Linked DNA regions of Homo sapiens. The protein of the gene in region 1 purifies or fractionates together with the protein of each later gene. This does not show direct contact. Each region holds a gene or a part of one and is shown in the gene's direction. Other genes may lie near its edges.

The links. The genes of interacting proteins can lie anywhere in the genome.
Region 2: the proteins of ARHGAP44 (region 1) and WDTC1 purify together in Homo sapiens (affinity purification with mass spectrometry; 2 studies listed by BioGRID and IntAct, with this or other methods). This does not show direct contact.

Annotation. Positions count from the first base shown.
Region 1 is NC_000017.11:12,792,482-12,799,504, forward strand, and holds part of ARHGAP44 (rho GTPase-activating protein 44), read left to right. Parts: intron 1-7,023. UniProt on the Homo sapiens protein: GTPase-activating protein (GAP) that stimulates the GTPase activity of Rho-type GTPases. Thereby, controls Rho-type GTPases cycling between their active GTP-bound and inactive GDP-bound states. Acts as a GAP at least for CDC42 and RAC1.
Region 2 is NC_000001.11:27,230,189-27,237,631, forward strand, and holds the start of WDTC1 (WD and tetratricopeptide repeats protein 1), read left to right. Parts: upstream 1-4,443; 5' UTR 4,444-4,763; intron 4,764-5,008; exon of another isoform or gene 5,009-5,123; intron 5,124-7,443. UniProt on the Homo sapiens protein: May function as a substrate receptor for CUL4-DDB1 E3 ubiquitin-protein ligase complex.

The DNA of each region.
Region 1 (7,023 bases):
AGCGAGAGGGGCAGTATCTCCTCTATTATTGAGAATGTTTTGGGTCATGATCCTATGAGTATTGGAGTAAAAGAGCCCGCGGTTGCCTGTTAATTTCTTAAATCAGTAGAAGCACATAGGATTGGAATTTGGACTTTAGGTGTGCAGTTATAAAGCACTTGATTTTTATCCTTATATTTTTCTAAAGTTTTCCTCTTTCCGAGGGAGGACTAAGAGGACTTGAAAGTCCTTCCTCATGGCTCGCCTTCCCTAAGTTGCAGGTTCTGGAGTTCTGAATATAAAACTTAAAGTCATTTTAACAATGTAGGAGTTGCCCTACTTAAACATACTCTGCTGGGTTACTAGTACTTTCTCTCGAAGTGCTCACATCCAAGTCATATTAAGGGCGTCAGCGACTATGAAAAGATTTGATAAAACCCATTGTATTTAACTGACAAAAGTTTCAGCCCCTCCTTGGTCTGTTTCCTTAGTCTGCACGTGTTCCTTCTGCTTTGAACTTTCCCCTTTCTGTCCCTTCACTTCAATCCGTCCTTTGGGAAGCACTCCCTGGCCACTGTGTGCCTCATGGTTAGGAGCACAGGCTTTCCACTGGGACAGGTTTAGTTTGTTGCTGACTATGGAATCCAGAGCTTAATTCTCTGCACATTAATTTTCTTACTTGCAAAATGGGAGTAGTTAAGGATTGCACTGTGGTAATGTGGTAACCACAGTGATAACATAGATAACCTGTGAAAAGTACCTAGCAGTGCTCAGCACTAGGAAATGCTTAATAAATGGTAGCTACAAGTATCTCTGGGCAAATGTTATGACTGTTATTGAATTATATGCACTATGGCATATGTACCTTTATTAGATGTCTACTGTGTCCCAGACACTGCTCTGGTTCAGGGAGTATTGCAGTACAGGGCAAACAAAATTCCTGTTTGCCTGGAACCTGCATTCTAGGCCGGGCGTGGTGGCTCACGCCTGTAGTCCCAGCACTTTGGGAGGCCAAGGAGGGTGGATCACCTGAGGTCAGGAGTTCGAGACCAGCCTGGCCAACATGGCGAAACCCCGTCTCTACTAAAAATACAAAAATTAGCTGGGCATGGTGGCGGGCGCCTGTAATCCCAGCTACTGGGGAGTCTGAGGCGGGAGAATCGCTTGAACCCGGGAGGTGGAGGTTGCAGTGAGCCAAGCTTGCACCACTGTACTCCAGCCTGGGCGACAGAGTGAGACTCCATCTCACACAAAAAAAAAAAAAGGAACCTGCATTCTAAAAGCATGCTATGGTAATAATGGCTCACTTGTGTTATAATTTTTATCTTTTGTCATTTACTTTCCCCACTAGACTTTAAACTCTTTGGAGGCAGGGACAGCTGCCCTAACGCTGCCCTGTATAGAAGGTCCTCTGTCATTCTTTGGCAATGGAATGAGTAAGTGAACAAAAGATCCATGCGCTATAGATAGGGGAGTCTTTTGAAGTAGTTCAAAGATGGGGAAAGCTCCTGATACCATGTTTCTTTAACGTTGTGATGGTGGTCAGAGGAGAGAGGAACAGCTGCACTTCTGGGCATTGGAAGGGCAGAGCAAGATTTACGGGAGAATTTGGTTCTTGCCTGATTGATGGCAGCATTTTTCTTTTTACCTTCAAGAGAGTCTAGCAGTTGCTGGAGTGAGAAGCATACCGAAAGGCATAGAGTATTTTTCTTGGAAGTGACATTTGCTTGATGTTGGGTGGAGCAAAGCCCTGAGCTAAAATTTGGCACCCACGAGACCCACTAAGATAAAGCAAATGGAAGAAGTAATGGTACCTTGATTTGGTGGGGAGGACTTTTTTTTCCAGTCTGCACAGTGGGTTCACAGCGGCCCCATCCTCAGAGGGCTGTCATGAGGTTGGAGGGAGCCTGGTCCACTGAAGTCCTCAACAAATGGTTGAGGTGGTTCGTTGTCACTGAACACCCATTCAAGTCTTCCAAAAATAATGTTGGCCTCCTAAGTAGAAAAGGATTCTTAGAAACGATTTCAACAGCTACTGCCCAGTGATGGTCCAAGTGGGGCTTGTCCTCTTGTTTAAAATGAGTGATGTTCAAAGTGTCTGGGAGTAGGTGAGGAACTGTGGGTGTGCGGGAAGGAGAAGGCTGGTTGGGTCGGGTTGAATTGTGTGGATTTAGAGGCTATGAGTTGGGGAGTGAAGACAAAGTTTTGTCTCTGGAGCCTTGTTTTCTATTCCTTGACTGCTTTGCATACATTGCAAAGCAGGCTTGGTTTCTGGTGCACAGCTTTGCAGGTATCATTGCTGCTGTGCAGCTCTTGGAATTCAGCTGCAGAGGCCTAGGCATTAGCCAGTGGTGGGGAGCCTGGGAACTGGAGGCTGAGGCTGCAGCAGCCTCTAGGAGCACTGGTGCTGCAGACATTTTTGTCTGGGCCAAAGCTGCCAAAGTCAGTGAGGATCTTTTCCTTGAAGGTATCTCTGAGACATTGCCCTGCCTTGTAGTAGGCCTTCTAAGAGCCGTGACCCAATCAATAGGACATTAGAGGAAAATCAGAACCAATTCCAAATTTGGCTTTGGACTGCTTTGTTCCTTCCCTTCTATTTCCCTTACTGTGAGTTAGACCTGCCAGACCAACACAGGCCCTGCCATGGGCTTCCTGTTAGCCCAGCAGGGCTGGGCGGACCCAAACTCGTCCCCCAAAGAGCGCTGTGCACATTGAATGGGTCTCAGAGCAAAGTTTTTCATTAGAGTTTTATGGAAGCCCAGGCCTTACTGCCTGTTCTGCTGTATATATGTGAGAGATAACAGAGTGTACTAACCCACCGATTACTGGGTTAGCAAATCTGGAGAGAATATTCTTTGCTCTTATCTTCTAAGATCCTCACTGTGTGGGTCTGCTGGGTTTCACCTTCTGCTGAGCTGCTGTCAGCAGTCAGCCTGAAGCTGTCTAGATTTCCTGCAGAATTCTGTTATCCCAGACCTGCAAGTCATCGTGAGGAAGCCATGCTCTTAAATAGCAATTAATCATTTTCCTTCCCAGTTTGTCTCCATCAAAGTAATTTATCAATGATTTTTTTTTTTTAATGATGGGCAATAAGGACCATTTTTTTTTTCTCTAGAGAAAGTGGATCAGTAGCCATACAAATATACTGGTAATTTATGGTCATTCCTTTTAGAGGGGATTAGTAAGTATCCCTTTTATTAATAATCAAAAGCAGTTTATTTCAAATGCTATTTGATAAAGACAGCAAATAATAAAATTATGCTACATCTGTGTGGATGTAGTTGTAGGTCAGGCAGGAGGTTGGGGGGAGAGTCAGAGAGTCAGGCCTCTTCCCTCGGGCGTGGGGCATCCAATTGAGCTGGCACCTGGAACTCCACCGCCTTTGGGAAGCTTGTGGCTGTCTAGCAATTTCAAACTCTTCTTTCTGTCCAGGAAGCAGATGTTTTGCTTTCATTTTCCAACTTTAGAGCTTATTTTTAGAATAAATGTTTATTTTCCCACAGAATTCAATTTACTTTTTTTAACCTTCATTTTGGTTATATAAGTAATATTTGTTTATGGTAGAAAAATCATAAACTTATGGATGGGCTAAAAGGAAAAAAAAATCACCTATAATCTCATTACCCAGAGACCATAGTTAATATTTTGGATATAGTCTTTCAGTTTTTGAGAAGTATATCTATCTATCTATCTATCTATCTATCTATTCTTTAAAAAGAGTACAGACCATACTCTGTATACTGTTTTGTAACCTGTTTTTTTTTCCTTTATATTACATCTTGGATATGATCCCATGTCAATAACTGTTAATCCCCAGCATAATTTTTGAAGGCTATACAGTATTCCACTGTAGTTAACTCATTTTCTTTTGCTACTCACTTAGCAAATATTTCTCATGAATTTAGCTTCTTAGGATGAAGTCTTAGAAATGTAATTGCTGGGTCAAAGAATATGTGAATTTTTAAGACTTTGAATGTGTATATTATACACACATACATACACACTACTTTCACTGCAGCCTTGAACTTCTGTGCTCAAGCGATCCTCCATCCTCAGTCTCCCTAAGTGCTGGGATTACAGGTGTGCAACACCATACCTGACCCCACCTCTTTTATTTTCTAGTGAGGCTGAACTTTTCTTTGTTTTTTTTTTTTGAGATGGAGTCTCACTCTGTCACCCAGCCTGGAGTGCGGTGGCATGATCTCGGCTTACTGCAAGCTCTGCCTCCCGGATTCATGCCATTCTCCTGCCTCAGCCTCCCAAGTAGCTGGGACTACAGGCACCTGCCACCACACCTGGCTAATTTTTTTTTTTTTTTGAATTTTTAGTGGAGACAGGGTTTCACCGTGTTAGCCAGGATGGTCTCGGTCTCCTGACCTCGTGATCTGCCCGCCTCAGCCTCCCAAAGTGCTGGGATTACAGGTGTAAGCCACTGCGCCTGGCCTTGAGGCTGAACATTTTTAAAGTTCTCTTGACATTAGTTGCCTTTTCTAAATTGCCTGCATTTGTCTTTGCCCCATTTTTCTAAAGTCATGTTCACAATTGTTTTCTTATTGATGTTAAGGTAATTTTTAATATATTAAGCATATGTATGCTTTGTCATATGCCACACACATCTCCCTAGAGGTTTTAAAAATTTTTGTTGTATGTCTCTTTTTTCTTTTGGCCGTGTATAAATTTAACATTTTGTGATCTTAAGTCTATCTATTTGTGGTTTGTTCTTCAGTGTTATGTCTGGGGATACTTTGCCCAGATGCAGATTATATAAATATGCATGCATTTTTATTACTATTTATAATAATTTCATTTTACCTTCAGATCTCTAGTGTGTCAGTCATTGATTTTGATGTATGACATGGCTTAGGTATAATACTTACGCTTTTTAAAATTGATTACCCTGCTATTGATTAGTGTAATTCATACCCACCATATTGAAGTATCATCATCATTGTGTACTAAAAAATTTCATCTACTTTTATCTTTTTCTGTGATTTCTAGTTTGTTTTTTATTGTCTGTTGGTTCTGGCAGGAATTTAAGACGGGCTCAGCTACCCAGATAAGCAGTGGTGGGTTAATCCTTATCATGAGACCCCGTCCATTGGGTGGGAGTGGAGTCAGGCTGAACTTCTCAGCTCAGCTTCAACCCGGGCCATTCCTGGGTCTTTAGAGCACAACAGCCTTTGCCTAAGGATCATGCTGTGTCTTAACCACAGTTAACCTCCAAATTGCTCCATTATGAAAGAAAGTTGATCAGTTTTCTTGACTGTGCTCATTTGTTTATTGTCTCTCAGTATTACTTTTTAAAAGTGTATATTAAGATGGAAAAAAATGGGCATTTTTACAATATTGAGTATAATGCGAATTCTTCTCATCTGGGAATAGGGCATGTTTATTCCAATCTATTTATAATCCTATAAAGTAGTTTTTGTCCATTTTGCTCCTGTACAATTTTGCTTTTACTTATAGGTAATTTGTCAGTGTTGTTACTGTAGCTTCAGTGATTTGAATCTTTTATTAAATTATATATTTTTTCTTACTCTTTGTTGCTGGAATGTAGCGAAGTTGTTGATTTTTATGTAATTATCTTAACAGCCGCCTTCATGAACTATCTCATTATTTTTAAATACTTTTTTTAAAAAAATTGAGTCTGTGGGATTTTCCAGGGAGACAATTAGGTCTTCTGCAAATAATAATTTTGTATTTTCCTCTCTGGTGGTTTATACTTGTTTTATTTTCTCACCTAATTGCATTGTCTAGGACTTATAGAACAATGTTAAAATATCATGGCAATATGTGGGCATTCATGTCTTATTAACCTCAATTAAAATGCATGATGATTGGTTTGAGATATTTTGTTTTTTAATTATGTTACATATTGCATAATTTTATTTTACTTTGAGGTTTTCTTTGACATCAAAGTTAAATTTGATTTATCATGGCATTTGCAGATAATCACAATGTGTTTTTTTCTTTGATTTTGACATCACTCAATAATTTATTCCGTATATATTTATTGGACACTTTTATGTTCCAGGCATCATTGATACATCAATGATAGAGTCAGTACCCATGAGGAGCTTGTGTTTTGGATGTTTGAACCTCAATAGATTTTCTAATATTGAGCTCTCCTTGCCTTCCTGCAGTTAATCTTGACTATGGTGTGTTCATATTTTTCAATACTGCTTGATTTAATTTGTTATTTAGGATGTTGGCATTCAACATTCATAAATGAAAGCATTTGATTTTTTTCCCCCATATCTGTCATGTTTTGTTAATTGTGTAAAATGAGTTGTTCAATGTTCTTTTTGTTCCTATAGAATGGTAAGATGGAGAAGTACTCATTCTTTGAAGATAAAAACAACTTTCCAAGGGTGTTTTCTGGATGTAGTTCTTTGACAGTTTTCTGGATTTCTTGAATGGTTATTGGACTATTCATGTTGTCTATTTTTTCTTGAGTCAGTTTGAATAACATATTTGATAGAAAAGCATTCATTATACTATGATTTTAAAATTTAATAGAAAGTTTTTGAGTATATCATTGTATTTCTATTGTCATTCCTAATTTACAATTCTGTTTTTCCCTTTGACAAGTTTTGCCCCAGAGGAAGTCTCTCCCTACCCCGGTCAGTAATTAGATTTAAGCTATTTTCATTTGGATTTCTTTCTCATTAGCTTTTGATCAGCACATATGTTTTCTAGTAAATTCTGCTTTTCTCAGATCCTTTCCTCCTGATTTCCCTGAGTTTACTTTGTTCTTTTCCTGGTCTTTAGTCTTCCATGTTGTGTTAGGATAGGTTAAGCTCTGCTGTGATAACACATGAGCTCTGGAATTTCAGGGGCTTAACATAGCAAAAGCTTCCTTTAAGCTCATGTGAATGTGATGTGAGTCAGGAGGACTCCCATGGACAGCTCTCCTCCGTGTGTGATTCTGGAACCTAGTCTATCCATCTTCCCCTCCACCTCAAAATCTCAGTATGTGGTTTTCAGTCAGTGCTAAAGGTAAAAGAGAAAATAGAAGTGGTATACTGGCTCTTAGATGCCTGG
Region 2 (7,443 bases), on another chromosome or scaffold:
GGGAGGCTGAGGCAGGAGAATCGCTTGAACCTGGGAGGCGGAGGTTGTGGTGAGCCGAGATCTCGCCACTGCATTCCAGCCTGGGTGACAAAGTGAGACTCCGTCTGAAAAAAAAAAAAAAAGAAAAAGAAAAAGAAAATTATTTCATAATCTGAAAACACCTGTGGCTGGGAAGCATGTGTCTGATTTTGAACTTAACCATCTTCTTCTTTCTTCTCCTTTTTTTTTTTTTTCCAGACAGGGTCTCATTCTGTGTACCAGGCTGGAGTGCAACGGTGCCATCTTGGTTCACTGCAACCTCTGCTTCCCAGGTTTAAGCGATCCTCCTAACTCAGTCTCCCAAGTAGCTAGGACTACAGGCACGCATCACCACAACTGGCTAATTTTTTTTTTTTTTTTTTTTGTATTTTTAATAGAGACAGTGTTTGGCCATGTTGGCCAGGCTGGTCTCAAACTCCTGACCTTAAGTGATCCTCCCACCTCAGCCTTCCAAAGTGATAGAATTACAGCCATGAGCCACACCCGGCCCAGTCACCATGCCTGCCCTAATTTTTTTTTTTTTTTTTTGACGAAGTCTTGCTCTGTTGCCCAGGTTGGAGTGCAGTGGCGTGATCTTGGCTCACCACAACCTCTGCCTCCAGGGTTCAAGCTATTCTCCTGCCTCACCCTCCCAAATAGCTGGGATTACAGGCACGCACCACCATGCCCAGCTGACTTTTGTATTTTTAGTAGAGACGGGGTTTCACTATGTTGGCCAGTCTGGTCTCGAACTCCTGATCTCGTGATCTGCCTGCTTCGGCCTCCCAGAGTGCTGGGATTACAGGCGTGAGCCACCGCGCCTGGCCAATGTTTATATTTTTTGTAGAGACAGGATTTTGCCGTATTGCCCACGCTGGTCTGGAACCAAAACGTTGGGATTACAGGCGTGAGCCTCCATGCCTGGCCGAGTCTCTGTTTCTTCTATGTAAAATGGGAGTAAGAATCATACCTAACTCACAACGTGGTTGGGAGAAGCAAATGAGTTAGTGTGTGTTAATGTATATGGGTGTGTGTGCGTGCGTGTACACATATGTATGTATAGATTTATGTATAGGTCTCTGCCTATATGGAGAGAGAGGAAGTGAGAAAGAGAGAAACTCAAGCAAGTGTAAGAGTACGAGTGGTATCTATTAGAAAATAATAAATAGTAACTGCAGTTGTTAATAGTCTTCTTCCTGGTGGGGCGAGGTGGCTCATGCCTCTAATCCCAGCACTTTGAGAGGCCAAGGCAGGTGGATCACCTGCGATCAGGAGTTTGAGACCAGCCTGACCAATTATGGTGAAACCCTATCTCTACTAAAAATACAAAAATTAGCCGGGCGTCGTGGCATGTGCCTGTAGTCCCAGCTACTCGGGAGGCTGAGACAGGAGAATCGCTTGAACCCAGGAGGCAGAGGTTGCAGTGAGCCGAGATTGCACCACTATACTCCAGCCTGGGCGACAGAGCAAGACTCCGTCTCAAAAGAAATAGTCTTCTTCCTGTCATCAGTCTCTACCAACGAAAGTTCATTCTGACAACAAATATTTACTGAGTTTCTGCTATGTGCCATAGACTGTGCTAGGAGTCACAGAAACATCACCCACTCTTCTCTATCAGTATATCTAAGATCCTCTGTGACCTTGCCAGCATTAAACAAGACTTTAAAATGGGGGTTCTCTGGCCGGGCGCGGTGGCTCATGTCTGTAGTGACAGCACTTTGGGAGGCAGAGGCGGGTGGATCACGAGGTCAGGAGATCGAGACTATCCTGGCTAGTACGGTGAAACCCCGTCTGTACTAAATGAAATGACAAACTGGTGGCGGGCGCCTGTAGTCCCAGCTACTCGGGAGGCTTAGGCAGGAGAATGGTGTGAACCCGGGAGGCAGAGCTTGCAGTGAGCAGAGATTGCCCCACTGCACTCCAGCCTGGGCGACAGAGCAAGACTCTGTCTCAAAAAAAGAAGAAAAAAGTGGGGGGGGGGGTGGTCTCTGCCAAAAACACAGGATGCTAAAATGATTTAAAAATGAGGGTTCTGGATTTGAATAGTGTAGGCTTTAATCCCAACTGTACCACTTCCTAGCTATGTGATTGTGGGAGTCTGTCTTTCTTTCTTTTCTTTTTTCTTTTTTTGAGATGGAGTCTCTCTCTGTTGCTCAGGCTGGAGTGCAGTGGCACGACCTCGGCTCACTGCAACCTTCGCCTCTAGGATTCAAGTGATTCTCCTGCCTCAGCCTCCTGAGTAGCTGGGATTACAGGCACGCGCCACCACGCCCGGCTAATTTTTGTATTTTTAGTAGAGACGGGGTTTCACCATGCTGGCCAGGCTGGTCTTGAACTCCCGACCTCAGGCGATCCACCCGCCCTTGGCCTCCCAAAGTGCTGGTATTACAGGCGTGAGCCACCGCGCCCGGCCGGGAGTGTTTCTTTTTCTTTTACTTTTTTTTTTTTTTTTTTTTTTGAGACGGAGTCTCGCTCTGTCGCCCAGGCTGGAGTGCAGTGACGCGATCTCGGCTCACTGCAAGCTGCGCCTCCCGGGTTCACGCCATTCTCCTGCCTCAGCCTCCCGAGTAGCTGGTTCTACAGGCGCCCACCATCACGCCCGGCTAATTTTTTTGTATTTTTAGTAGAGATGGGGTTTCACCGTGTTAGCCAGGTGGTCTCTATCTCCTGATCTCGTGATCCGCCCGCCTCTGCCTCCCAAAGTGCTGGGATTACAGGCGTGAGCCACCGCGCCCAGCCCGGGAGTATTTCTTAATTCACTAGTAGCACTTATCTCCCATGGTAAGTATTCAATAAATGTTAGATATTATTCAGTTTAATTAACCCAATGACCCTAACCAAGGTTGCAGCCTGAACCTGGGGAGCTGCAGATAGATGATCTCAAAGCTTTCTTCTAGTCCCAAAGTCTATGATTTTTTATATTCAGTAGAACAGCTGTGGTGGAGAGTTCAGGGGGAATGACCCACAATATTTTTAGGAGAAAGGCATAAAAGGCTTTGTGAGCGGTTTCACAAGGATAGGTTCTTACTCCTCTAAATGGGGAGAAATCTCCCTTGCGGAGAAATCACCAGCAATTAGAATACTACCTTTGTCTCTGGGAGTATTCAGGTATTCACAGACAAATTCGTACTCATGATGTGAGCAGAATTGGAAAAAAAAAAAAAAAAAAAAAAAAAAAACAAGCGACACATGGAGTGATAAACACTATAAATGCCAAATACATATATTCAGTCCTTACTGAGAGCGGGTGCTGTCTGGTTTTCACAGGAAAGACAGGCAGTGTTAAAAGGCTCAGACTCTGGTGTCAGGCAGATCTGGGTCTAATTCCCAATTTGCCAACTTATCAGGACCCCGGGGGCAAGTTGCTTTTAGCCTTTCTGCTTCAGCTTTCCTTTTCTGCAAAACACAGACAGCAATAGTACCTAGCTAAGAGACTGTACCCAATCCAGTGCGAATAAAAGTGAATTATTGTTAGTATCTGACAAATGGCACCCTATGGGTGACAAGTTTCCTTTGTCAGAAGGTGACACGTCTTCCCTTTCTGACTTGAGGTTTCACGGGTGGGGCCTGGTCTCTGCCTTAAGAAGATAGGCTTAGTGCCACCCTTGTCACCTTGGGAACTTCCTTAATAAAGAGGAGGGTCTCTCCTCCATCAGACCCGGGACTCCACAAGGCTGGAACTGCGTCTCTTCCTCAGAGGTGGGAGCAGCAGTGACTCCGCTAGGGTCAGATGGACCTAGTCGCTCCCATCACCCCGAGGGCACCCAGAGTGTGTGTGGCTGACTCCTCTCCAGGCTACTCAGCGTAGGCCCGATTCTCTTTCATTCTCTTCCTTAAGGCCCAGGAGACGTCAGTGAGGACTGTGCCACTTCAGCAGCCCCCCAGAGCAGGAAGGAGTGGGCTGAGGAGCCCCCCGGGGCCCTAGCCTGAGAGGTCCCAGAATTCGGGGGCTGAGAGGAAGTCTTAGGAGCTCTTAAGGGGCTGTGAGGGGACCTGGGGTTCAGTGGGCGAGCGTGTGGGCGGGTGTCCCAGAAGCGGTGTGAGGAGCGTTTTACCCGGTGGTGGGGTGGGAGGTGCGTCCGGGTAACTAATGGCAACCGGGCGGGGTGAGCCCGCTCTGCAGGAACTCCTCGACGGCGAAAAACTACGACTCCCAGGGTGCCCCAGGGCTTAGCCCAGCTTTCCCGCCCGCCCACTGGCTGCCGGTCCCGCAAGCGGCGAAGCCCATTGGCCACGGCGGTGCGGGGCTCCCCCACTAGCAGGTTAGTGGGCGCCGCCGGCAGCAGACGTTGACCGGGCGCGGGGGGGTAAGTGGGGGGGCCCGGCTAGCCATTCTGGAAGCGGCCGGGCGCAGTCTTCGTAGCGTACCCGCCGGCTGCGAGGCGCAGGGCGGAGGCGGAGACTGCGTGGCGCAGGCGCGTTGCTGGGCTTCTCCTGGGTCCCCAGACAGCTGGAGGAGATAAACAGAGGAGGAGGAGGGAGGGGAGTGCGTGTGTGAGAGCGCGCGAGGGAGTGTGAGTGTGTGTGAGCGCGGGTGTGAGGCGGTGCGCAGGGGCGGGCGGAGGCGCTGTCCGGCCCCGGCCAGGCGCCGGGCGGGGAGCATGGGAAGGGGCTAGAACTGCTCGAGCCCCCCAGCCCCCTCCCCGGGATCCGCGCCCCCCTTCCCGGGAGAGGGGCCGCCCCCCCCGGACGGACATGGGCTCCTGAAGTTGCGCCGCTGCCGGTCGGGGGAAGAGACCTGACAGGTACGGGTCACCGCCGCCCCCTGCCCTCCGCGGGCGCCGAGGCGGGGACCGGCTCCCGCAGCCCCGGTGAACGGGCCGCCCGCTCTGGGCCGGCTCCAGCCCTGCCGGCCTGGGGGCCTGAGCCTACCCGCCTCGGGGCCCCGGGTGTCCCGAGAGGGGCCAGGCCTCGCCGGGGCGGAGGGCAGAGTGGTCCGGGGGCGGGGTGGGGGCGGAGGGTTTGGTCGGGACGCGGGGGGAGGCTGTGGGAGTCCGGGGAGGCTCTGCGGAGGGAGAGGTGGAAGTCATTCCATCATGGGACTTTTTTGCGGAGTTTTTGTTTGACATCTGATCTGGCGCCGGAGTCAGGAAGAAGGGGCAGGTGTAAGTGCTGGGAGGGCAACGCCGACCTGACCTGCCCTCTTAGCTTCTCGCTCTCTCTCTTTCTGTTTTTCTCTCTCTCTTTCTGTGTGTGTGTGTGTGTGTGTGTGTGTGTGTGTGTGTGTGTGTCCACAGCAGATGCCTTCAGTGGCCCATCCTGGCACCAAACAACTCTGCCAAGGTGTTTCCACCAGGCGACTGTAGCACCCCGTATACAAAGGGCCTCTGCTTGGGAACGGGCTATTCAGTACCCACTTCAAAGGGTAAATAGGAAGTGAGGAGATAGAAGAGAGACTGCGAACCAGCAGGATCCACTTCTTGGACTGAAAGCCGCAGTGGGACGCCCCTTTGCCAGATTGGTTGACTTTGCTTGGTGGCTTGGGCTCTCTCTCCTCTGCGGGTGTACTCCCAGGGTTTCTAGAGGAGAGGTACAGGGGCCTGTAACTAATGTCTTAATAGCCGAATTTGACTGTTTTCCCCAGAGTTCTTTTCTTCTGTGACTTTCTTTAACCTCCTGAAGTACTGGTAGAGCAACGTTATAGTTTTTCTCTCAAGTTGGTGATTTTAGGAGCCTGGTAGGGTGGCTGAAGCTTCCCCATTCATTCCAAGGATGGGGTAGATGATCTGGGTAAAGTGGCAGTGAAGTCTTCCCTTTCTAACAAAGCCTGAAACCGTTTTGAGAAGAAACTATTTTGAGGGCAGCTTCTGACTCAAAGACGTTACGAAATCCCCACCTAGGACACCGGTATGCCCAGTGGTCCCTACTAAGCTTTTCTGTGTCTTTTAGAGTCGTTGAGTGGCCAGCTTCTGCTCACTGTACTGAAGGAACTACTTAATGCTATTTCTGTCTTGAGTTCTGGCTTATTCTTCCTTGTGATTCTTATATCTTTAGCGGGATTGAATTGAATTTTTGCTGTTGAGTGTAATAGCCAGATCCTCTGTAACAGACCAGGGAGTAACTAGTTGGGCTCCTTTGGGCCAAGTCTGAGACTTACTGAGGTTTCTTCATTGTAGGTTGTTGTATTTCGTTGGCAGGTGGGAAATGACCTTTTCCGTCATAGTTTGTGATCATGCTGCTTTAAGGCTGGAGTCCTGCTCTCCTTTCCTTTTTTGACCTATATGGGAGCACTTCTGTTCGAGTCTTATCTCAATTTGAAGGAACAGTGCTTTTGGATCAACTCTGCCGAATAATTGAGCAGTAGCCCATATTTCTGCCTGGGACACCTTCATTGAGGGTCACGAGGGAAAGAGAGAACACGTGTAAATATTATGATGATGATGTTAACAACTATTTACCAGTTTCATACAATTGACAGTTTTTTTTAGCCGGGAGGAGTTCAGTATTGACTCATTGGGCATCTTATGTAGGGTGTTTTTGCACACCTAGACTTTAGGATCTGGAAAGACAACTGAAAATCTTGAAGCCCACTGCCAAACATTTGTGGATCTTGGGCCAACTGCTAAGGAAGATCTAGACTATGACTTGGTCTTTAATTATTTTTATTTTTTTCTCCTTTATGTATGTATGTATTTATTTATTTATTTTTTGAGATGGAGTCTTGCTCTGTTGCCCAGGCTGAAGTGCAGTGGCGCGATCTCAGCTCACTGCAACCTCAGCCTCCTGGGTTCAAGCAATTCTCTGCTTCAGCCTCCCAAGTAGCTGGGATTGCAGGTGCCTGCCACCATGCCCAGCTAATTTTTGTATTTTTAGTAGAGATGGGGTTTCACCATCTTGGCCAGGCTGGTCTTGAACTCCTGACCTCGTGATCCACCGACCTCGGCCTCCCAGAGTGCTGGGATTACAGGTGTGAGCCACCGCACCTGGCCTCTCCTTTTATTTTTATTTTTTTGAGATGGGGTCTCACTCTGTTGCCTGGGCTGGTCTCAAACTCCTGAGCTCAAGGGATTCTCGTACCTCTGCCTTCCTAGTAGCTGGGACTACAGACACGGCCTCCGTGACCACTCTCTTCTCTCTTTTTAAAAATTAAGGAATGTTGCTGACATGTGCAGTTCTGAGTCTCAGAGAGGAAGTCAAACAGAACATGTAATCTGGTGATACTTGTGTTTTCTTTGGGTCACTGGTTTAGTTATCTATTCTGTTTCCTTTCTTCTTTCCACCTCACCTTTCCAGATGCTCCACTGTATCTTTAGGCTGCCATTGCAGATTGCTGGGCCCACAAAACCCTTAGGTTGTACTTTCTTAGCTGTCATCTCTTGAAAAGCCAAAGTTCTGGCAGTTGCTATTAGAAACCAGTTCCTGGCTGAGCGCGGTGGCTCACGCCTGTAATCCCAGCACTTTGGGAGGCTGAGGTGGGCAGATCAC